Linked DNA regions of Homo sapiens: all the other regions are linked to region 2. Evidence: fine-mapped expression QTL. A gene starts in region 2. Each other region holds a variant in brackets. All regions are shown on one strand. Distances are from middle to middle.

Region 1 (8,184 bases), 23 kb after region 2:
CGGCCTGGCCTTCATTTATTTTTAATAGCTGCAGATTATCACATTGTATGGATATATCATACATATATATTATCATTCATATGTGTGTGTGTGTGTGTGTGTGTGTGTGTGTGTATATATATATATATATATAATCATACATAATCCATTGGTGGGCAATGTGTGGAGACTGTTCTGATTGTCACAACCAGGGGGGAATACTACTGACATCTAGTGGGGCCAGGCCAGGGATATAGCTAGTGCTGAGGTTGAGAAACTTTGCTCTGGGTTAATTGATATAAAGTATGGTCTGTGGTAGTCTTGTGGGACTGAAAATATAGCAGAACCTAAGACCTTTGCGGGGCATTATAGTAAGGAGATCTTTTTCTTTGATATCTAGGAAATGATATAATTATGATATGGCTAGAATTACTCTGATGTCCACTTACAGGTAAATAGATGGAAAAGATCATCCTTGGAGGATTTCCTTTATGTTTTATGATCCTTTGACATTCTAGAATGTCAGGTATTCTTAGCTGTCGCTGGGATTTATCAGCTAGTATAATCGGTGCTAATATGTAAGCAGTTTATCAAGCTCTCTAGATATGGCTCTTCTTGACATGTTTCATGTTGATACATGTTAGTTCAACATAGTTTTGGGGCTGGGCATGGTGGCTCATGCCTGTAATCCCAGCACTTTGGGAGGCCGAGGTGGGCAGATCACTTGAGGTCAAGAGTCTGAGATCAGCCTGGCCAACATGGCGAAACCCCGTCTCTAATAAAAATACAAAAAAAATTAGCTGGATGTGGTAGAGTACACCTGAAATCCCAGCTACTTGGGAGGCTGAGGCAGGAGAATCGCTTGAACTTGGGAGGCAGAGGTTGCAGTGAGCCAAGGTCACACCATTGCACTCCAGCCTGGGCAACAGAGCAAGACTTCGTCTCAAAAACAAAACAAAACAAAACAAAACACGAAAACCACAAACAAGAAAACCCCATAGTTTGGGCAGAAGCTGTTTTCTGCCTTTGATGGTGGTTGTAGCTCAGTGATGGTTAACTTTTTTTTTTTTTTCCAATGGTGTCTTTATAGCTCAAGCTTCACCTGTGGTCTGGCAGGGGCCCTGGCCTCAAACCCTGTTGATGTTGTGAGGACACGTATGATGAATCAGAGAGTGCTTCGAGATGGCAGATGTTCTGGCTACACAGGAACCCTGGATTGCTTGTTACAGGTAAGAGCAGATGTCTGTCTCTGCAGGGTTGTGAATTATATATTTTTTTGATCTAAGAAGTAACTAAATTATGAAAGCTACTAAAACTAAGATGAATGATGCTTTAAAGCCCAGAGATGTACATGTGTGAGACCATTTTTGCCACACTGTGCTTAGCTTTTATAAATACAATGTTGTTTTCTTTATACCTCCATCTGCTGTGAAAGGTGAGGAAATATTTCCTGTGATTATAAAAGAACTGGGTCTCCTTCCAAAATGTACTTTCTTCCTGTTGGGTCAAACTAGTATGAATATCCCTCATTCAGACATCTCTGTTAAAGGAACACATCAATCTTACTTTAATTCTCAGTTTAAATAATTGGGCCTCCTGTTTTATGAGTGGGTGAAAGGTTTCACCTGTCTCTGCCACTAGATTGCCAGTAGTAGGATTAGGAGTCACTTTTTTTTTTTTTTTAAGGTGATATTTATTTATTTATTTTCAAGTTTTAATGTATTTTAGATTCAGGGGGTACATGTGCAGGTGTGTTACATAGGCACATGCGTAGTGGTGGAGATTGGGCTTCTAATGTACCCATTACCCAAATAGTGAGCATTACACCAGACAGATAATTTTTCAACTCTAGCCTCTCCCCTTTAGGAGTCCCCAGTGTCTGTTACTTCTATCTTTATGTCCGTGTGTACCCATTGTTTAGCTCCCACTTAAAAATGAGAACATGTGGTTTTTGATCTTCTGTTTCTGCGTTAGTTTGCTCAGGATAATGGCCTCCAGCTCCATCCATGTTGCTGCAAAGAACGTGATTTCTTTTTTATGGCTACAGGGGCCACTTTTGTGGTTCCTGTTTTCCAACATGACACTAGCACATTTTATTCTTCAGGTGTTGCCTTAATGAAGCAAAGACACTTATCGTATTCATCCACCTGACATCTTGGGAAATAGTGGTACTCTGAATGATATCTCTACCACTATTGCTTCTTTATTTGTGACCTGTTCAGGAGCCCACATGGCACGGAAGCAACAGACCGTAATTGGAATTAAATCTAATTTTTTCCTCACTCAACAGTGTTTATCTCCTTTGTGTGGAGTTCATTCAATCCTTCGTGTGGGGTTGTTGGGCATGGAGCCTTAGTCTTCCACCCACACAAGCCTCTAAAGAGCAAAGATTTCTTAGGCAGTCCTTCCAAACAGGATTTTATTTTTAAGAAAAATAAATCAGTCTGGCCACTAATTATTATTATTATTTTTTGAGATGGAGTCTCGCTTTGTCGCCCAGGCTGGAGTGCAGTGGCGTGATCTTGGCTCACTGCAAGCTCCGCCTCCCGGGTTCATGCCATTCTCCTGCCTCAGCCTCCCGAGTAGCTGGGACTACAGGCGCCTGCCACCATGCCCGGCTAATTTTTTTTTTGTATTTTTAGTAGAGACAGGGTTTCACTGCATTAGCCAGGATGGTCTTGATCTCCTGACCTGGTGATCCACCCGCCTCGGCCTCCCAAAGTGCTGGGATTAAAGGCGTGAGCCACCGCGCCTGGCCTGGCCACTAATTATTAATGCATTTGGCATAATTAGAAAGTTGGAAGTTAACTTTTTTTTCTTCTTTTAACAGACATGGAAGAATGAAGGGTTTTTTGCTCTCTATAAAGGCTTTTGGCCAAATTGGTTGAGACTTGGTCCTTGGAATATCATTGTATCCTTTTCTGTTGCAATAGATCTGAAAAAAGATACAGCTAAAGAATACTATTTGTATAAACTCTCATGTTATTAATTATAATTTAGAAGTAGGTTCTGATTATTTTGAGTTCCTCTGATGCTAAGAAGTCACTACTTAGTTTCTTTTTTAGGAAGTGTAAAGTCTCCGTGCTAGACACTGAATCTTGCTTTGATGGTGGTATTATTCAAAAGTAGTGATACTACTAAAAAGGTTTAGTTAGACTCTGTTCTAGAAGCTGAGGGTATTTACGATTTCAGAGAGAGAGAGAGGAGGATTGGCTTTATAGCCCTAGCCACCTTGGGAAGGATGTGGTTGGCAACAGTGTCTTAGAATGCTTATCTTAGAAAGTGCCTGAAGATAAACAGGAATTAGCTCCGGAATTGTTTGGCAGGCCAGCACGCTTCCTATGTGCCACAGTGGGAGGCAGGAAAGGAAAGGCAGTTAACTTTTTTTTTGTTTTTGAGACTGAGTCTTTACTCTGTCGCCCAGGCTGGAGTACAGTGGCGTGATCTCGGGTCACTGCCACCTCCGCCTCCTGGGTTCTAGCAATTCTCTTGCCTTGGCCTCCTGAGTAGTTGGGATTACAGGCACATAAAACCACGCCTGGCTAATTTTTGTGTTTTTAGTAGAGATGGGGTTTCACCATGTCAGCCAGGCTGGTCTCAAACTCCTGACCTCAAGTGACCTGCCCCTTGGCCTCCCAAAGTGCTGGGATTACAGGCGTGAGCCACCGCGCCCGTGAGGCAGTTAATTAGACACTGAAGGGCAGAGTGATGAAGCAGGAATGCTGGCTTTTGCTGTCCTCTTGTTGCTCTTCATCAGCTCCTGCCTCCCAAGGAAGGATGCATAGTGGAAGCCTTTGAGGAGAGCTTCCCAGGGCTTGCTAACTCTCTCTCTCTCTCTCTCTCTCAAAAGCTTACAGTGCTGGAAAGTTTTTCCACCACAGCAAAGCCACAAAAGCTTATCAGCGTAGATGCCATCTCAGAAGAGGCTGATACCAGGGGATTTACATATCTCAGCTGTGATCTTTCTGCTCCAAGCTGACCTTGGAAGATAGTTTGATGTGGTTAAGGGTGGAACCCCTTTTATTTAATCGTGTCCATAGCGTGGGTCTGCCTGTACCTATTTGTTATTAAGTGTGCCATTTGTAAGTCTGTTGTTATGCACTGGAGTTGTGAAGATGGCATTTTCTGTGTCATCCTTAACCCATAACCACAGTTCTTTGTGACATACGAGCAGTTGAAGAAATTGGATTTGTGA[C/T]AAGCCAAGGCTGCATGAGACATCTTTCTGAAAATGGTAACTTCTGAAACAGCAAAGCTTCCTGTGTTTCACTCTGCTTCTCACTGCTTGGCTCATCACAGATTCTGGGATGTGAGCAACAGATGAAGACTGGGTTAGTTGAGATTGCTGTGTGTTGGCATTGGATGCTCTTCATCAAACGTTTAATGGCATAAACTAACATCCAAACACTAGTCTTTACCACTGAAGTGCCCTTCAACATCAAAGATAATATGTGAAATGCATGTTTCTTGCTAAAGAAAACTTGCAAGAAAATCAGGAGCGATGTATTGTTTTATTCAGGGAGAGTAGCTCCTGATGCATCTCAGCTCATGACTGAGAATCAGACTGCTCTAGAAAAGCTCACTGGAACCATGGAATGGAGCCTCCGAGAAGGTGTTATGGTTTCTGAATTTCTGGGAGATTTTGCTCCTTGTCAACTGAAGAAATTTCATGTATGGAGACCTGGACTGTTCAACCCCAGGTATAAACGGTGCAGGAAATGGATCCTAGGAATATCACACTGCTTTATCATTTCCTATTTTGGCAGGATCTTCCACTTATAATAAGTGATTTTAAGCTTTGAAGACTTGACATTTGTGAGAAATTGTTACAAAGTAATAATCTCTAAATTCGTGGTGGTGTTATGTGTTGGCTTTGAAGGTTGCAAGGTCTGTATTGGTGGGGGGTGTTTTCAAGCAGCTTAGGTTCTGTCTTAGGTCATGTTAGTAATTAGCTTTATGATTTTTAGCAAAGCATATGTATTTCTCAATGAGTAAAATGGGGATAATAACGTCTATTGATGTAGAGGGTCAAATGAAGAACAAATAGTAGCTGCTGCTACTTGACTGGAAAGGTAAATGTGTTTACATCATGCTGTGGAACAGCTCTAAACAGTCTATGTAGAAGAGGGGCATGTTCTCATGGGCTTCTCATGGTAATTGTGAATGAAGCCCTTTGTTAAGGTCTTGTTGAAGAAAGAACACTGTATAAGTTCAGGCTTTAGTACATTTTCCTTAGCAAAATGTTGGTAGTGAATCAAAGAGTTGATTTTTCCAGGTTTCCAGTTTTTACTTTAGTTTATGTTGTGCCTGTCTTGGACTTTCTGTTTAGTTTGGATGGAAAATACCTGCTTGAAATTTTAAAAATGATTTCTTTAGTGCATCTATTTAGCTAGTTTCTGATAGGTGGTATGTAATATTTTCCCTTTTTCTTTCCTTCTGTAGACACAATAAGTCATTCTCCCTCTTCTTTTTTTCTTTTTCTATTTTCTTATTCTTTACTCTAACCTGCTTCAGAGAAAGAGCCCTCTTCCTTCTTGTCTTCATCTTAGTCTTTTCAAAATAAAAGATGACTGTGAGAACCCCAAGAACTTCCACTTCTGGGAGGCAGCCACAGGACAGGGAACATATTTATTTGGGTCTCTTCAGTTCCCCCTTTGAGAACAACATTAAATACATGTTAGCTGGGGCTCCAGGGCATTCTCCTTCCACAGTAGTGCGGCCAAATTCCCAGTCTGGCCAGTCTCTTTGTTGAGACTGAATAGAAGGACTGCAGGTTTTTTTGGAGGATGAGATAATTTTTCCTCGCAGGCATTTTTCCCTTGCCTTCCTTATGCATGAATGGTCCCTTTGAATATTATTTCCAAAAGTGAGAGCTAAGACAAAGTCATCAAAAAGAGAGGATAACAGAAGGTGGGGGCGGGGGCGGGGTGCAGTGGGGTAGGGTTACCTGTTAATTGCTGAGACTCAGATGAAAGTCCAGCTCTCCCTGGGCAACCCTAGAGGGCAGCAGAGGACCCCAGAGCTCATTCAGGCCTTGCTGCTTGTTCTAAACTACACCTTAGGATTTTTTCTTCTTTCCAAAACATTCCATTGATTTTATAAAGACTTTCTATAGAGAGGCTTTCACTTTTGAGTTCTTTGAGTTTAAAGATTGCTTTTCTTGAAATGCTCTTTTTTTAATGTAGAAAAATTTTACTTTTTCAAATATGCATACAATTTTTAAAACAGTAGAAGCAAATTCATTTTAATGACCATGTAAAGAGCGAATGTCAGACAGTATTATTACCAGTTTATTCAAATTACATACATGTTCCTACCAAGGTGGAAAGAAATTCAAACCTCATGGTAAAACTTAAGCACGATTTAAGATAAAAGCATAGTATTTCTTCAGTGTAGACTTATTAAGTGCCTTATTGAACAGGATCTTAACCTGCTTTTTCTGTTTTTTTGAAAGAGTTAATGCAATTGTTGAAGCTTCTAACCAAGAAACAACTTAAGGAATTGGGAGACTTGGTCCCCTCGTTGTCAGGGTTCTGGCTATAAGTACCTCCCCACCTTTGGGTTTTCTTAAATATGCCAAAAGGAATTCTAGTTTTTATAACCAATGGGTTTTTTTGTTTGTGTGCTTATGGATTTGTGTAATCATTGATGCTTAATGTTGTGGATTCATAATATAAAAAGTGGCTCCTGTCCTTTATATTTATTCATGTGCTAGAAATAGTATGCATTATATAAAGAGTATGAAGTTTTCATAAGCCTTTATATTTCAAGCTCTTTATTTAAACATTGTTGGAATATGTGGCATAAGCCTTGTTTCATTTATTTAATAAACTGGAGTAATATATAATAATAAAAATGATTTCTGGTTATTTCAGATAAATAGAAACATTCAAACAAAGGCAAACTACATGGAGTCTAGAAGGCTGGAGTAGAAATAGTGTTGCAGCTGCAGACATTTCTCTCTGCATGGAGAAGTTGCTGGGATAATCTTACTCATTGCCTGGCACCTGTGTGATCCCCCTACCCTCCCCCCCCCCAACCCCCCTCCCCATGTATGAAATACTTGGCAGCTCAGTCGAGGCCAGTGAACTTGATTTGAGGGCTGGCTTGGCATTCGAAATACCAGTGAGAGGATGTCAGTGACGTGAACTGTCAGACCCCCTCAGCCCTTCATACAGTGTTGGGTGTTGCTAGAGGCAGATGCAGGGATCCTTGGTCAACTGTGGACCAGGCAGGGACACCTGGTTGGCAGAAAACAACCAGCTAACTCAATGCGAAGTGGGTTCATTAATCTTTTTACTTGAAAGTATTCTCTAGGTGCCTGTTAGCATGTGAATTAAACATAGTCGTTTATTTAAAAACTAACATTGGGGGCCGGGTACGGTAGATCACTTGAGTTCAGGAGCTCGAGACTGGCCTGGCCAACATAGTGAAACCCCATCTCTACTAAAAATACAAAAATTAGCTGGGCATGGTGCCATGCGCCTGTAATCCCAGCCTCTCAGGAGGCTGAAGCAGGAGAATCTCTTGAACCCGGGAGGTGGAGGTTGCATTGAGCTGAGATCACTGCACTCCAGCCTGGGAGTCAAGAGTGAGACTCCATTTCACAAAGCATAAATAAATCGTAAAACTGGGGAAAGAGGGGAGCTTTTTTTTTTCTTTAATTTTATTTTTTAGAGTAGTTTTAGCAAAATTGAATGGAAGGTACGGAGATTCCCATGTACCCCTGTCTCCTCCATCATCAACATTCTGCACCAGAGCAGTGCATTTATTACAACTGATGAACCTATTTGATGCATCATTGTCACTCAGAGTCCATAGTTTACAGTAGGGTTCACTCTTGGTGTTGTACATTCTGTGGATTTGGACGAATGTATAGTGACGCATATCCACCATTATTGTATCATACAGAACAGTTTCACAGCCCTAAAAGTGGGGAGATTGGCCTCAGTTCGCCTACCTAAGAGACTAAATGACTTACCCATATATGGTTGCCTCCATATGAAGAGCAGTGAGAACCGCCGGCCGCTGGTGTGTCTCAAATGCCTGTGAACAGTGAAATCCTCACTTGGATGGTGGCACCTGTTAGACACAATTGGCTTTAAATCCAGGATATTTATTTTTAAACCAGCAGCTGGGGAAATGTGACAGGGTAAATTTTTGGTAGGTTACAAGTAGATTCATTCTGTAGCAAAGGAGGGAAGTATA
Region 2 (8,184 bases):
AACATTCCTATAAAACAGGATTTCTAAAACTTCAGTACTATTGCCACCTTCCTGGGCATTGTTGAACGTTTAGCAGCAACCTAGGTCCCTACCAACTTGCCAGTAGCAAGCATCTAGTTGAGGCAACCGAAAAACTCCAGACATTGTGAATTTCTCCTGGAGGGCAAAATCTGATTCAGATTGAGAACCGCTGCAATAAAATATAATGATAAAGAATTTTATGGGCTCATTCCCAGTACACCAGCTAGGAACACTGGCCTATCCAGGTGTTCTTCTTAGGAGTAGCAATGGCTCATTGCTTCTGCATTTTGCCAAGGAGAGGAGGTGACCAGATGTCTCAGTCAGATACAACCTCCTCCTTTCGCCAACCACCAAATGTTACCCCTAAAAGGTCTGACTAAGCCCTTTCATTCTGCAAGCACCAACCATCCAGAAAAACCTGTGAGACTCATTCTTGACAAGACGCAGGTCCATATTATCTGCATCATTCCTGTAGTTTAATGTAATTAAACAAACATTTATCAAATTGTAGTTGATTCCAAAGCATTTGTTATTTATTGCCACTATATAGTGCACACACAATTGCCAAGATGATGAAAACCATGATGTGGGTAAAAAATGGTTCCTGCTGCCCAGCTCCTCATAGAGATTGGCATCATCCACCTAAGGGAGTGTAGTGAGGGCTTTTGGCTGTGTGGATGTTACTGTTCTAACAGTTTGCTAATAAAAGGCCTAAATGGCAATAAAAGCCCAGCTACTTGAGAAGTGCCTATATGGCCAGACTTTAGAATGTAGGATTGAGGGGCAAGTGCATGGGTGAGGAGGATAGGGAACTGGATTCTTATGGCTGGAGGGCTCTAAGGACCACGTGGTCAGGGGCCTTAATCTTGAGGACACTGGGGAGCCAATGAAGAATTTTAAGCTGGTGAGTGCCATGGCCAGATGAATTCAAAGATATTTCTACAGCACTTACATTTTACAAAGTATGTTTTTGCACACGTCGCCTCATTTAACATTCTGTAGGGAGGGTATTGTTTCCATTTTGCAACTGAGGACTTTAATTAACTCAAGGCCAGAGAGCTAATAAAGCTGTGGCCAGGATTGAGTAGAACCTAGGTCTTCATTTCCATATTGCTACCTGGGTGTGTTAACTGTAGTCAGATAAAAAACATGCACAAAGAGCCAAATAGGGGGAAAGTTGAAGGCAAAGAATAGATGAAAAAGAAGTTGCTTCCAACAGGGACTGGCACTGAATAGTTCGTAGATATATTTCTGGACTTACCACTTTTTTTTAATTCTTTTTTTTTTTTTTTTTTTTTGGAGATGGAGTCTTGCTCTGTTGCCCAGGCTGGAGTGCAGTAGCACGATCTCAACTCACTGCAACCTCTGCTTCCCAGGTTCCAGCAATTCTCCTGCCTTAGCCTCCCAAGCAGCTGGAACTATAGGCAGGCAGCACCATGCCCGGCTAATTTTTGTGTTTTTAGTGGAGATGGAGTTTCGCCATGTTGGCCAGGCTAGTCTTGTACTCCTGACCTCAGGTGATCCACCTGCTTCGGCCTCCCAAAGTATTGGGATTATAGACGTGAGCCACCACGCCTGGCCTTTTTTTGTTATTCTTGTTTCTAAACTGGTTATGCTGCTGCAACCAAGTTACTATTCCCTAGAGAAATAGTTTCCAATCCCTGGGCCAAGACCCTTGGAGGAACCCAAGGTTACTGCAGGGGCCCCACAAATTCCATATGCATTTTCATAATGGACACTGAAAATACTACCATCTATTTTATAGGGACTCAAAATTTTTAAAAAATTCAGTTTTCTTTCAAAAAGATCTTTGGCCAGGCATGGTGGCTCATGCCTGTACTCCCAGCACTTTGGGAGGCCGAGGCAGGAGGATTGCTTGAGTATAGGAGTTCGAGGCTGCAGTGAGCTGTGACTGGGCCACTGCACTCCAGCCTGGGTGACAGAGCGAGACCCTGTCTTGAAAAACAAAACAAAACAAAAGCACAAAAAAACCCACAAAGGGATCTTCATACTTGAAGGCTGGCCATTCCTGTGTATTTCTAAGTATTATCTGAGTATTAGCATGGGCTGGTGGGGCTTAGGGTAATGGTAGAGTTTGGGTGTCCAAAAGCTCTACAGGAAAGGGAGGAATCCAGTGCTTTGTATGTAGTACCACACAGTCATGAGTCTGGAAAGGACTTGGTGAGGTGAGAGAGAGGTAGAAAGGGTCATGTACTTATTTCCCTGCCCTAGAAAGGCAAGCATTCCAATGACTTTCCCCCACAGGCTGGGGATTGTATTTGTTTTTATGGCCAGAATTCAGGGGATACTTCAAAGGGGTCCAAATTTTATTGATTTCAAAACATTGTGTGGCCAAAAATCCAGGTACTCACCTAGAGTCCAAGTTGGAGCACAGAAAAGAGATTGTTTAAGCTCAACCTGGGGCCTGAGCTGGAGACACAAGAGAAGGAAATGAGAGAGAGATGGCCCTGGGCCCTGGTTCTGTAACAGGGCAGTTATCTCATGAAACCTCTGTTCTGTCATCTGTAAAATGGAAATAACATTTCTTTGTCTTGAATGAACCAAGGGATGTAAAGATTCCTGGAGTAGCACTTTGCATCAACAGATGCAAGTTTTATACATATGCATTTTCCTTCCTCCCTTCCTTCCTCCCTCTTTCTCCTTTCCCCTTTCCTTTCTTCCCCTTCCCCTTCCCTTCGCCTCCCCTCCCTTTCCTTTCCTTTTCTTTCTCTCGCGCTGTCACCCAGGCTAGAGTGCAGCAGCTAGAGTGCAGCAGCTAGAGTGCAGCGGCGTGATCTCGGCTCACCTCAACCTCCACCTCCCAGCTTCAACTGATTTTCCTGCCTCAGCCTCCCGAGTAGCTGGGATTACAGGTGTCCATCACCACGTCCGGCTAATTTTTGTACTTTTAGTAGAGATGGGTTTTCTCCATATTGGTCAGGCTGGTCTCGAACTCCCGACCTCAGGTGATCTGCCCGTCTCGGCCTCCCAAAATGCTGGGATTACAGGCATAAGCCACTGAGCCCGGCCCCAGTTATATGTTTAAATCATGAGTTCACAGCCGGGTGCCGTGGCTCACACCTGTAATGGCAGCACTTTGGGAGGCCGAGGCAGGCGGATCACCTGAGGTCGGGAGTTCGAGACCAGCCTCACCAATATGGAGAAACCCCATCTCTACTAAAAATACAACAATTAGCCGGACGTGGTGATGGGCACCTGTAATCCCAGCTACTCGGGAGGCTGAGGCAGCAGAATCACTTGAACCTGGGAGGCGGAGGTTGCAGTGAGCTGAGATGGTGCCATTGCACTCCAGCCTGGGCAACAAGAGTGAGGCTCTGTCTAAAAACAAAACAAAACAAAAATATACCTGGGTATGCTTGAACACAAACACTGCCATACCGTTAAAAATGTTATATATTAATATATAAATAAATATTTACATATATGTATATTAGATATATATGTAAAGATTTCTACTCATAGTACGGTTCTTTTAATTTTTTGTTCTGTTTGGACATTTTCTTTCTTTTTTTTTTTTTTTTTTTTTAAGAGGGAGTATCACTTTGTCGCCCAGGCTGGAGTGCAGTGGCGCGATCTTGGCTCACTGCAACCTCCGCCTCCCGGGTTCAAGCGATTCTCCTGTTTCAGCCTCCCGAGTGGCTGGGATTACAGGCACCCGCCACCAGGTCTGGCTTTTTTTTTTTTTTTTTTTTTTTTTTTTTTTTTTTTTTTTTTTTGAGACGAAGTCTCGCTTTGTTGCCCAGGCTGGAGTGCAGTGGTACGCTCTCTGCTCACTGCAATCTCCGCCTCCCAGGTTCAAGCGATTCTTCTGCCTCAGCCACCCAAGTAGCTGGGATTATAGCGCCCGCCGCTATGCCCGGCTAATCTGTATATTTTCAAGCTAAAAGCTGGGGTATAAAAAAATAAGGGCAAGTTTACTTCCATCCAACTGTGAAGGTTCACGGGGGCACCGTGAGAAGGTTGCCCCCTGCGAAGGTTGCTTTTCCACGGTTCTCGATGCGTTCCCCAAATTTCTCTTCCACCTCCCAGTCGATATCGGAGGCCACATCAGGTGTCACCGAGTCCCGGGCAGCTCCCTCAGGCAGCGGCAGGGGAAGATCCTGAGGGGCACTTGGGACGGGCCCCGCCCCTCCGTGTCCCCATCTGGGGCTGTCAGGGGTGTGGCTAGTGCTGGCAGAAACCAATGGGAGCTGAGGAGGTCGCGTGTTTGCGCGGACGGGGCGGGGCGGCGCGGGGCTGCGTGCAGGCTCGTGGGTCTGCCCCGCCCGCGACGGCATTTTTTCCTTTTCTCCAGCGGCCTCAGGTTCTTGTTACAACTGAGTCCGGGTTGGAGGAGGTGTGGGGCCGCTGCCGCCAGGTAAGTCCTGGCCCGTGCCTCCTCCTGCCGGCCCCGCTTTCTCTGCGGCTCCTGGAACCCGGGCCTGGGGTAAGGTTGGGCTGCGATTTCCGAGGAGCCTCCTTTGCAACCGGGCGTGCTCGGGGCTGCCTGTGCTCTCCACTTCGCAGGCCGGGCCGGGCTCGGCGGGGCGCGAGGTTCCGGGGACTGGGGACAGGGCTCTGCTTCTCGGGCTGCTGCCTCCTTGGGTCGGGCCGGTGCCGCGGGGCCCCCATCGCTGTTGGCGTGGGGTGATTCCTGTTCCAGGGTCATTCAGATCCGAGTGCGAAGCCCGTCCTGGCATCTCCGCGTCTGCTAACGAGCCCCGGGCTTGCAACCCTGCTTGTGCGTCCCTCCCACTCGTGCGTTCATTCAAACGGCAGCCTGAGCGCCCGCGAGCTTCGCACTGTGGGAGAGGGCACACCACATTCGGAATCGCTCGTGGCACACAGGCTGGGAGGAACTTGCCTGGAAAGTTAATGTACCTCTGGGTTTTGAAGTCTTTCTAGGTGCACTTTCATGTAAAGCAGTTGCAGTGATTAGCATTTTTGTTCTGCGCAAGAGTAGCAAACAATGTTGGCACTGCCCTGCGGATTCGGCTTGCGGTGCTACTTGGGTAGTGAGAAAGTTGAAAGGCATGAATCTTGCTTTTGGCTTTGCCGTTGCGAAGCTTTGTGACCGCGGGCTCAGTTAATTAACGTGAAACGAGATGATAATTTCGAAGATTTCTTTTAAACCCGGCTTTTTGTAAGTCTGTGATGAGCTTAGTTTTCCTTCTGCACCTTTAAAAAGAATAGGAAATAGGAAAAGTTCATGAAAGGGCATTATTGAAAGGGCAGTCGGTCCAGCAAGGAACAATAAATGTATGAGAGCACATTAAAGGCTGTGCAATTACAGTTTTAAGACTTAAGACTAAAAAGGGAACAGGAAGTAAAACTGAAAGAACTTACCAAGAATTAAATAAGAGAAACGGCTGGGAGCGGTGGCTCAGGCCTGTAATCCCAGCACTTTGGGAGGCCGAGGCGGGCGGATCACCTGAGGTCAGGAGTTCGAGACCAGCCTGGCCAACATGGAGAAACTCCGTCTCTACTAAAAATACAAAATTAGCCGGGCGTGGTGACGGATGTCTAATTCTAGCTACTCGGGAGGTTGAGACAGGAGAATCGCTTGAATCCAGGAGACGGAGGTTGCAGTGAGCCGAGATCATGCTATTGTACTCCAGCCTGGGCAATAAGAACAAAACTCCGCCTCTAAATAAATAAATAAGAGAAACTTGGAAAGCGTTCAAAAGTACGAACAGCTAGTATTATATTTAATTACCTCCCTTTACAGCTGTACACATGAGGTCAGGTGGGTGAAAATAAATACTAAGCAACCATGTAAGAGAAAATGTAGACAGGATGTGTAACTTAGCATATATCCTAAGTGTAGGGAGAATCCTTTGAAATTCTTAATTTGTATAGACAATTTCATTCAGAAAACTTGTTTTTAACCTTTATTTATTATTTGGGACAGGGTCTTGCTCTGTCACCCAGGCTGCTAGAGTGCAGTGTCATGGTCTTAGCTCACTGCAGCCTTGAAGTCCTGGGCTTATGTGCCCCTTCCACCTCAGCCTGCGGAGTAGCTGGGACTAGAGTCGCGTACCACCATACCTAGATAATGTTTTGGATTTTTTTAGTATAGGTGGTCGTCTCATTCTGTTGCCCAGGCTGGTCTTGAACCCCTGGCCTCAAGCTATTCTCCAGCCTCAGCCTCCCAAGTAGCTGGGATTACAGGTATGTGTGACTAGCCCAGCTAACATTTTTGTTGTTGTTTTTTTACTTTGTATTTTTCACTTTTTTTTGTATTTATTTATATATTTATTTATTTATTTGAGATGGAGTTTTGCTTTTGTTGCCCAGGCCGGGGTGCAGTGGTGCGGTCTCAGCTTACTGCAACCTCCGCTTCCCAGGTTCAGGCAGTTCTCTTGCCTCAGCCTCCCGAATAGCTAGAATTACAGGCGCCCACCACTATGCCTGGCTAATTTTTGTATTTTTAATAGAGACAGGATTTCACCGTGTTGGCCAGGCTGGTCTCGAACTCCTGACGTCAGGTGATCCACCCGCCTCGGCCTCCCAAAGTGCTAGGATTACAGGCATGAGCCACCGTGCCCGGCCTGTTTTGTTTTTAACTTTAAAAAATTTGGACCGGGCGCCGTGGTTCATGCCTATAATCCCAGCACTTTGGGAGTCGGAGGCAGGCAGATCACAAGGTCAGGAGTTCGAGACCAGCCTAACCAACATGGTGAAACCCCATCTCTACCAAAAATACAAAAATTAGCTGGACGTGGTGGCACGTGCCTGTAATCCCAGTTACTCAGGAGGATGAGGCAGGAGAATTGCTTGAACCTGGGAGGCAGAGGTTGCAGTGAGCTGAGATAGCACCACCGCACTCCAGCCTGGGTGAAAGAGCGAGACTCAGTCTCAAAAAAAAAAAAAAAAAAAAATTATTCAGCCAGGCACCAACAGCTTTCTTTCTTTTTTTTTTTTTTGTGATGGAGTCTCGCTCTGTCACCCAGGCCACAGTGCAGTGGCGCCATCTTGGCTCACTGCAACCTCTGCCTCCCGGGTTCAAAGCTATTCTCCTGCCTCAGCGTCCCGAGTAACTGGGATTACAGGCATCTGCCACCATGCCCAGCTAATTTTTGTATTTTTAGTAGAGACCGGGTTTCACCATGTTGGCCTGGCTGGTCTCGAACTCCTGACCTCAAGTGATCCACCCTCCTCCACCTTCCAAAGTGTTGGGATTACAGGCTTGAGCCACCACACCCGGCCAACAGCTAACATTTTTAAAAATAAAATTTTTTATTTCCTCTGCTGGAAAATTCTATATTTATTCTGAATGTATAGAATTCCCTGCCCTGCCCCCCACCAATATTTTTTTAACAGCCCTTGGAAGATAGTGTCTGCAAAGTACTATCTAGAGGAAGGGTCATGTGATCCTTCAGAGAAACCTTAGTTTGAATATTTGGTAGCTTTGACCAGGGAAAGTTACTTTTCTTCTCTGAGGCTGTTTGCTTAGTTGTGAGATGTGGATAATGATACCTCTTTCATAGGACTGTGAAGAAAATGTATAGCAATGCCTAACAGCAGGTATTCAGGGATGACTGCTAGTGTTAGTATTATGTTCATAACGCAGCAAGGAGAAGTAAGGAATTACTGGGTTTTAGCATGGCTTAGAGAACATGGCTGTAAGAGGACTGTCAAATCAGAAGTGATCTACAGCCACTGCCCGACACTGGAATTTCTGCAAAGTTGTAATTCCTTCCCCGAGATGCTGCCCAGACACTATTGACTGCTAAGGACACATTAATCTCTCTAACTGTCTTGGCTTGTCAGCCTTGGGACTTCTGTAGATCCAGTTGGGATTTTTCCAAACAACTGTGTTTGGAATTCAAGGAAGTGTTTCACGAGACTTCCCTTCAGAAAGAGCTCCAAAACAAAGAAATGGGTTAGTTTACTGAACAGAGATTTCAGCCTAAGATACTTATAGCCCTGTCACAGCTTGCTGTGGCCAGTACAGCTTAGTGGACATCTACTTACTTATTCCAGTCCTAACTAGAACCGTTTTCGTGTGTGTGTGTGTGTGTGTGTGTGTGTGTGTGTGTATGTGTGTGTGTGTGTTTGAGACAAAGTTTCGCTTTTGTTGCCCAGGCTGGAATGCAGTGTCAAGATCTTGGCTCACTGCAACTTCCGCCTCCCGGTTTCAAGCGATTCTTCTGCCTCCGC
Region 3 (8,184 bases), 22 kb before region 2:
TTACTCCAATAGTGAACATGGTTCCTGACAGGTAATTTTTCAACTTCACTCCCCTCCCAACCTCCACCCTTTTATCACCAGCGTCTACTATTTCTGCTTATGCCAAGACTGGTTCTTGGTGAAGGCCCTTTTCCTGGTTCACAGATAGCTGCTTTCTCCTTGTATTCTCATCTGGCAGAGAGTAGAGAGAAGAAGCAAGCTCTCTCCTGTCTCTCTTTTTTTTTTTTTTTTTTTTTTTGGCGGAGTCTCACTCTGTTGCCCAGGCTGGAGTACAGTGGCGCGATCTTGGCTCACTGTAACCTCCGCCTCCTGGGTTCAATTGATTCTCCTGCCTCAGCCTCCCAAGTAGCTGGGATTACAGATGCTTGCCACCACACCCGGCTGATTTTTGTATTTTTAATAGAGATGGGTTTTTACCATGTTGGCCAGGCTGGTCTCAAACTCCTGACCTCAGGTGATCCACCTGCCTCAGCCTCCCAAAGTGCTGAGATTACAGGTGTGAGCCACTGTGCCTGGCCCTGTCTCTTCTTATGAGGACACTAATCTCATCATAAGGGCCTCATCCCCAGGATCTAATTACCTCCTTTTTCTGTCCCTGCTGCTATAACAGAATACCACAACCTGGGTAATGTACAAATGACAGAAATTTATTTCTCACAGTCCTGGAGACTGGGGAGTCCAAGATCAAGGCACTGGCAGGTTTTGTGTCTGGTGAGGGCTGCTCTCTGCTTCCAAGATGGTGCCTTTTTGCCTCATATCCAGAGGGGACAAACACTGTGTCCTCACATGGTGGAAAAGATGGAAGGGCAAAAAGAATTAGGATACTCCTTTTAACTTCTTTTATAAGAGCATGAATCCCATTCATGAGGGCAGAGTACTCATGACTTAATCACATCCCCAAAGACCCCACCTCATAATAATACTACATTGGATATTGGGTTCCTACTTAAGAATTTCAGGAGAATGCATACATTCAAACCATAGCACCTCCCAAAGCAAGCACCTCCCAAAGGTCCCACCTCCTAATACTATTACATTAGGGATCAGGAATTCAACATATGAATTTGGGGAGCCGGGGACACAAACATTCAGTCCGTAGCAGTCCTTTTGGCTTGTGATGTGTTGACCACTCCCTCCTGGGCTTTGGAGGCCCTGCTCTCCCAGCTGTCTGGCTCATGCCCCCATGTTGGCACCTCCTAATATGGCTCCCTACCTAATGCTCATCTCACTGCCCCTGGGAGCCGTCATCCAGAGCCATAGATTTAGCTACTGCTGGTGTAGCTTCAATGACTCTACATTTGTTTCTAGCTCATACATATTTCTTGAGCTCAGACCCAGCACATAGCACATTGACTCCTATACTCTTACACATAAATACTCTTGGACACCTTAGACCAACATGTCTCAAACAGAACCATCACCTTGACTTCTAAACAGCCCCTGTTCCCTCAGTCTGTGCTCTGTGAGACATACAACCAGACACCTTTTGCCACAAGCCAGGAACCCAGATGTTTGCCTCAATTACCTCTCCTCCACCTTCCTAGCAGATCAGTCAAATTCCATGGATTTTACCTCCTTAAGCTCTCTTGAATCTATTCTCCCCATTCCCACTATTGTAATTTAGCTTTTGCACTGGGAAACCTACATTAATGCTTCAAGACTTGGTCAACTCAAGTGTCATCTTGACCAAGCATGGTGGCTTACACCTGTAATGCCAGCACTTTGGGAAGTCGAGGTGGGAGGATTGCTTGGGGCCAGGAGTTTGAGACCATCCTGGCAAATATAGTGAGGACCCATCTCTATTTTTTTTTTTTTTTTTGAGATGGAGTCTCGCTCTGTCGCCAGGCTGGAGTGCAGTGGCACAATCTTGGCTCACTGCAACCTCTGCCTCCTGGGTTCAAGCGATTCTCCTGCCCCAGCCTCCCAAGTAGCTGGACTACAGGTACACGCCACCATGCCCAGCTAATTTTTTTATTTTTAGTAGAGATGGGGTTTTACCACATTGGCCAGGCTGGTCTCAAACTCTTAACCTCAGGTGATCTACCCGCCTTGGCCTCCCAAAGTGCTGGGATTACAGGTATGAGCCACCACGCCTTGCCCTATTTTTTTTTTTTTAAGTGTCATCTCTCCCAGGAAGACTTCTTTTTTCTTGCTCTGTTGCCCAGGCTGGAATGCAATGGTGTGATATCGGCTCACTGCAACCTCCACCTCCTGGGTTCAAGCGATTCTCCTGCCTCAGCCTCCCGAGTAGCTGGGATTACAGGTGCCCGCCACCAGGCCCGGCTAATTTTTTTTGTATTTTTAGTAGAAACAGAGTTTCACCATCCTGGCCAGGCTGGTCTTGAACTACTGACCTCGTGATCCACTCGCCTCAGCCTCCCAAAGTGCTGGGATTACAGGCGTGAGCCACTGCACCCGGCCTCTCCCAAGAAGACTTCTAAGCACCCTTCCAGGCCATTATATAATTTTGGATTTTTTTTTCCTCTTCCATCAGACTGTAAATCTCTAAATGCAAAGGCATTTCCCCACCTTTTGTACCCAGCATGGCAATCAATCGGTGATTGTTAAATGCATGCATTTAAGTAAAAAATACATTTATTTTCCACAGCAACATGTGAGATTTTTGGTGAAATGTGAAATGTTTCCATTTTTACCAACCACTCTCCACAGATTTAATCAGGTTTTTTTTCTAGGCACATTTCCTCTTGTGATTGTTTCATTTTCTACTTTACTAAACCCAAAAGGAAACAAATATTCAGGATTCACATTGGTAGCTAGAAATTCTGTTCTGGTTTGCTGGGCCAGAGAATTAAGTGAATGCGTATCTTCAAAGGAAGTTGAATTTGTAAACCACAGTCAGACAAAATTAGCAATCAGAAATGCCATTGTCCTAGGCAAGAGAATCTTTTTACACCCCTCCTGTGGCTGGCTGTGGAAGCACCACAGCCAGACAGATCACCTCCTGTCGTGTTCTTGCTGGATAACTTGCTGTTATGATTCATTTTAAGGTGAAGCACTAGTGCATGAGAGCAAGTAATAAGGTGTAAAGTTGGAGACATTCATCCTGGACAAGCCCTGGTAGTGTTCCCCTGGTATTCTCATAGAAACCGAGACAAGAAACAATTTTCAGCTGAATCTTGTAAATTTCCAGATTGGCTTTACTGATGATAACTTGCCTAATATTTATTTAGCACTCATATCATGCTATGATGTGTATGATAGAGTAACAACTGAAAAACTGAACAACTGAAAGTTGTTGAAAGTAACAACTGAAAAAGCCATCTGACCATTCTATCAAGTTTCTTTTCTTTTTTCCTTTTCTTTTCTTTTCTTTTTCTTTTTTTTTTTTTTTGAGAGAGAGTTTCACTTTTGTTGCCCAGGCTGGAGTGCGATGGCGCAATCTCGGCTCACTGCAACCTCTGCCTCCTGGGTTCAAGAGATTCTTCTGCCTCAGCCTCCAGAGTAGCTGGGACTACAGGTGCCCACCACCACACCCGGCTAATTTTTGTATTTTTAGTAGAGACAGGGTTTCACCATGTTGACCAGGCTGGTCTCAAACTTCTGACCTCTGGTGATCCACCTGCCTTAGCCCCCACAAAGTGCTGGGATTACAAGCGTGAGCCACTGCACTCAGCCTTCTTATCTTTTTAGTATAAATGGAAAGAGGACAATGAACACATACAAACTATTTTGTTAAATCATCCTTAGTTTTTGTTTTTCAGTGAACTTTGATTAAAGGAAACATATTTGGGGACAGAGTTATTCTGTTTATTTATGTGGACATTGCATTACATCTGGGAAATAGACTGTCAAGGTACAGAGGGTACTCTGTGGCCTATATCAATAAGCCCCAGCCAAGGTCTAGTTATCCCTTTTTAGGTAAGTAGGTGAAAGGGTGATGGTGGTAATGTGAGTACTTGCATCTCTGGTTGTAGAATTTTTCCTAGGCTATTGGAAAGTCTATATTAAGGCTAGGAGTTCCTGGTCATATAGAGACCTCTAGCCATTGAAAAATCCTTCTGTGGTGTTGATAGAGCAAGTTTGGCATTTGTCCACTCTAAGAGGACTGCATGTCCTTGTGACTCAAACCATTAACTGAGAACTGGCCTTGACCTGTGGGGAAGGACATGATGAGGAGAGAAACCCAGCAGGACATTGTTATCAGTGCCAACATAAGCACGAGGGTGAAATGCATCTGCTTCTTGAGCTGCCGTTCTGCAGAGGAATTTGTTAGTTAACCGGCACTGGCTGAGTGTCTGTTCTATTTAGAGCTCCTGTTATGTGGGTTAGCTAAGTATCAGCTCTTTAGGTCATAAATACATTGAGCATTTTGGGAAGACATTTAATATATGTGTGGCTATGTATTTCTCTAACAACCATCCCCTAATTTTTTTTACATGATGTATGTTGTCCATATTAGATTCTGTACAGGGTTCCTTCCATCCTTCCTTCCTTCCTTCCTTCTTTCCTTCTTCCGTCCTTCCTTCCTTCCTGTCTTTCTTCCTTTTTTTTTTTTCAGGGGGAGTACAGTGGTGTGATCTCAGCTCACTGTAGCCTCAACCTCCTGGCCTCAAGTGATCCTCCTACCTCAGTCTCCTGAGTAGCTGAGACCACAGGGTGTGTGCCACCATGCCCAGCTAATTTTTGTATGTTTTTTTTTTTTTTTTTGTAGAGACAGGGTTTCACCATGTTGCCCAGGCTGGTCTCCGACTCCTGGGCTCAAACAATCCACCCGCCTTGAACCCCCAAGGTGCTAGG[A/T]TTACAGTTTTACAGTGTGAGTCACCATGCCCAGCCTTTTCTTTTCTTTTTCTTTAACTTACAATGCTTTAATTTTTTGATAGCTTTATTGAAGTATAAATGATATACAAAAAATTGCACATATTTAAATGTATAAAATTTGATGACTTTGGTTATAATGCACATATACCTATGATATCATTGCCACAATCAAGGTAACAAATAAGTTCATCATCTCCAAAAGTTTCGTTGTGCCCCTTTGTCTGCCTTTTTGTGTGTGTGTATGCGAGGAAGAACACTTAACATGAAATCTACCCTCTTAACACATTTTTAAGTGTACAACATGGTATATTGTTAACAATAGGCACTATGTTATACAGCAGATGTCTAGATCTTAATCATCTTATATAACTGTAGCTTCATACCCATTGAAAAACTCCCCATTTCCTCCATCCTCTGGCAACCTCCATTGTATTTTCTGCTTCTCTAAGTTTGATTATTTTAAAGTCCTCATGTAAGCTTCTGTGACTGACTCATTTCACCTAGCATAATGTCCTTTAGGTCCGTCCGTATTGTCGCAAATCATCCCCTAACAATTTCATGCAGGGCTGCCTTGATTCTATAGTAGCTCCCTTTCACATGAGCAATATAAAGTGTGCTTAATTGTGTATTTGAGTGAGGTCTTTATACTCTTACTGCATGCAGCCATCCACAACAATGCACATGAGTAGTGTCTGTGTAAGAGGAGGCACAGTCAAACAGAAAGCATTCTCTTTCCGGCATGTCTGCAGAGCCTGGACACTGGCATATGCAGAGGCCCTCACAGGACTCACCTTAAAACCCAAAGTGGTTTTAAAACTTGTGGTTGGGCGTGGTGGCTCATGCCTGTAATCCCAGCCCTTTGGGAGGCTGAGGTGGGTGGATAATCTGAGGTCAGGAGTTTGATACCATCCTGGCCAAAACGGCGAAACCCTGTCTCTACTAAAAATACAAAAACTAGCTGGGCGTGGTGGCGCATGCCTGTAATCCCAGCTATTCAGGAGGCTGAGGCAGGAGAATCGCTTGAACTTGGGAGGCAGAGGTTGCAGTGAGCTGAGATTGCACCACTGCACTCCAGCCTGGGCGACAGAGCGAGACTCCGTCTCAAAAAACAAAAAAAAACACCAAAGAAAACCACTTGAGGTTGTACAAGAAATAGTCGGAGTGACTGAATCCTGCTGTGGAATCACTAACGTGTGATTTGCTTAAAAGTTTACTTAAATAAGTTATAAATCTATGATACATTTTTTTTTTTATGTAGCCCAGGCTGGAGTGCAGTGGCTTCCATCTCAGGAGGTGTCTCCCGTGTTTTTTTTTGTTTGTGTGTGTTTTTTTTTTTTTTTTTTTTTTTTGAGTAGCTGAGTAGCTGGGATTACAGGCACCCACCACCATGCCTGGCTAATTTTTGTATTTTTAGTAGAGACGGGGTTTCACCATGATGATCAGGCTGGTCTCGAACTTCTTGCCTGAAGTGATCCACCTGCCTCGGCCTCCCAAAGTGCTGGGATTACAGGTGTGAGCCACTGCACCCAGTCTATGATGCACATTTTGTGATTAGTTTTACATATGCAGTGTTATCAGTTAGGAAAACCATAAGCAGTGATACCAAGTTAAAGTGGTCTTTTTCTCAAGAAACAAGAAGCCTGGGGGTAGAAAGTTGGTTTAGCTGCCTGACAATGTCAATAAGACCCTGACTCTTTCTCTCTTTCGGTCCTGCCTTTCTTAGCATGTGGGCCTTTTGTTAACATGCTTGTCACTTTGTGAGAGTGAGACTGTGGCCACAGCTGCACGTACCATGTTTGTATTCAAGGCACGAGAATGGGGAAGGGGCAGTGCCAGTGACCACTGCTCCTGGGCCTGTTCTCTTTGTACAGAAGTAAAGCCTTTCTCAAACACTCCTCCTTATGCTGCCCAAGAGTTTCATGTTTGTCTCGTTGGACAGAACTTGTCACTTGGCCATGCTTAGCTGCAAGAAAGGCTGGGAAAGAAGTTTTTTTGTTTTGTTTTGTTTTGTTTTGTTTTGTTTTGTTTTTGAGATGGAGTCTCACTCTGTTGCCAGGCTGGAGTGCAGTGGTGCGATCTTGGCTCACCGCAACCTCTGACTCCCTAGTTCAAGTGATTCTCCTGCCTCAGCCTCCCGAGTAACTGGGATTACAGGCACATGCCACCACGCCCAGCTAATTTTTGTATTTTTAGTAGAGATGGGGTTTCACCATGTTGTCCAGGATGGTCTCCATCTCCTGACCTCGTGATCCTCCCGCCTCGGCCTCCCAAAGTGCTGGGATTACAGGTGTGAGCCACCGCGCCCAGCCGGGAAAGAAGTATTTAACATTTTCAGCTTCCATAGTGGAGGGTGGCACAACAGAGGAGGATTAGAAATAAGCTGCTCTACCAATGGCTTCTGGAGAGTCCCCACCAATCCTTCATTAAGGAAGGAAGATGTGACCAGAATCCTTTCAGTGGCTTCCTTTTGTGGCATTTAGATGTAAATTAGATTTTTCAGGGTTTCAAGGAGCAGGCACATCCTCAGGTTATTTCCATGAATGAAGGCCAATTATAAGGCTACATAGGGAAATAAAGGACACAGGAAGTTGTCTCCGGCCATGTGGTTAGGCCATATAGGACGTAGTCTGGGATGTACTTGTAGCCCCATTGCTCTGATAGCAACTCTGGTGGCACCGTCACAATACCTGGCAAGTGACTCTTCAGAACTGGGCAACTATGGATTCCTGCTCTGGGTCTCCACCATGACAGGGACTCAGATATTTTGCCTCTGACTCTACTGCTTTTGTCTGTATCAGCGGATTTTCACTCGTGCCTTATGTCAAATGTCCCAAGAGTTCCTGTGGGACAGCCTTCACCATCCAGCAGAGGGGCCACTACAGGGCAGAGTTCTCAAGGCCACCTCAGACCTCTATCCATGTCTCCCTTGGCCTATCTGTGTGACTGGGTGATGGATCATGTGTAACCACTGTTGATCACACTCAGAGGGGACTGTGGGTGAGGTGGGTTCCCCAGGGCTTTGGAGGAGGTAATGAAACAATGGCTAGTCCTGGACCCTGGCTCTAAGCCATCTGCTAAGCTGTATCAAACTAGCCTTTTTTTTTTTTTTTGGTTGTTAGTTTTTATTTCATAATCATAAACTTAACTCTGCAATCCAGCTAGGCATGGAAGGGAACAGGGAAAACATGGAACCCAAAGGGAACTGAGCGAGAGCACAAAGATTCTAGGATACTGTGAGCAAATGGTGCGGAGGGGCACTCTCCTGAGCTATAGAAGGAATGGTCTGGTGGTTAAGATAAAACACAGTCGGCAATTGTGATCTCCTTGCTGGTCTTGCCATTCCTGGACCCAAAGCGCTCCACGGCCTTCACAATAATCAGGCCTTCTTTCTCCTTGCCAAAGACC

Which allele goes with the higher level. Alleles are on the strand shown, and positions count from the first base shown. SD is a standard deviation of normalised expression in the study named. Not every link is listed here.
As copies of C replace T in region 1, the expression in monocytes of the gene that starts at base 4,326 in region 2 goes down (large effect, 1.2 SD a copy in Fairfax 2014).

What was found. PIP is the estimated chance that this variant, and not a neighbour inherited with it, causes the effect.
Region 1: its variant is fine-mapped to the expression of SLC25A30 in monocytes (Fairfax 2014, PIP 0.95). The same link has a PIP of 0.9 or more in monocytes after LPS and monocytes after interferon gamma.
Region 3: its variant is fine-mapped to the expression of SLC25A30 in whole blood (TOPMed, PIP above 0.99).

What each region holds. Positions count from the first base shown.
Region 1 is chr13:45,391,964-45,400,147 of GRCh38, reverse strand. SLC25A30 (solute carrier family 25 member 30) reads left to right here. Exons shown (of 10, transcript NM_001010875.4): 8 at 1,070-1,208; 9 at 2,810-2,890; 10 at 4,133-6,832. The coding sequence ends at 4,174. Among named protein-coding and RNA genes, the nearest start is that of SLC25A30-AS1, 22 kb to the left of the region's middle. The variant C/T (reference allele first, on the strand shown) is at 4,175.
Region 2 is chr13:45,414,515-45,422,698 of GRCh38, reverse strand. It overlaps SLC25A30 (solute carrier family 25 member 30), which reads left to right and starts at 4,326. Exons shown (of 10, transcript NM_001010875.4): 1 at 4,326-4,399. It overlaps SLC25A30-AS1 (SLC25A30 antisense RNA 1), which reads right to left and starts at 4,537. Exons shown (of 2, transcript NR_047031.1): 1 at 3,961-4,537; 2 at 2,328-2,451. RefSeq lists enhancers at 1-44, 3,922-4,111, 4,922-4,971 and silencers at 4,222-4,321, 4,362-4,691.
Region 3 is chr13:45,436,548-45,444,731 of GRCh38, reverse strand. It overlaps the pseudogene PPIAP25. Among named protein-coding and RNA genes, the nearest start is that of SLC25A30, 22 kb to the right of the region's middle. The variant A/T (reference allele first, on the strand shown) is at 4,759.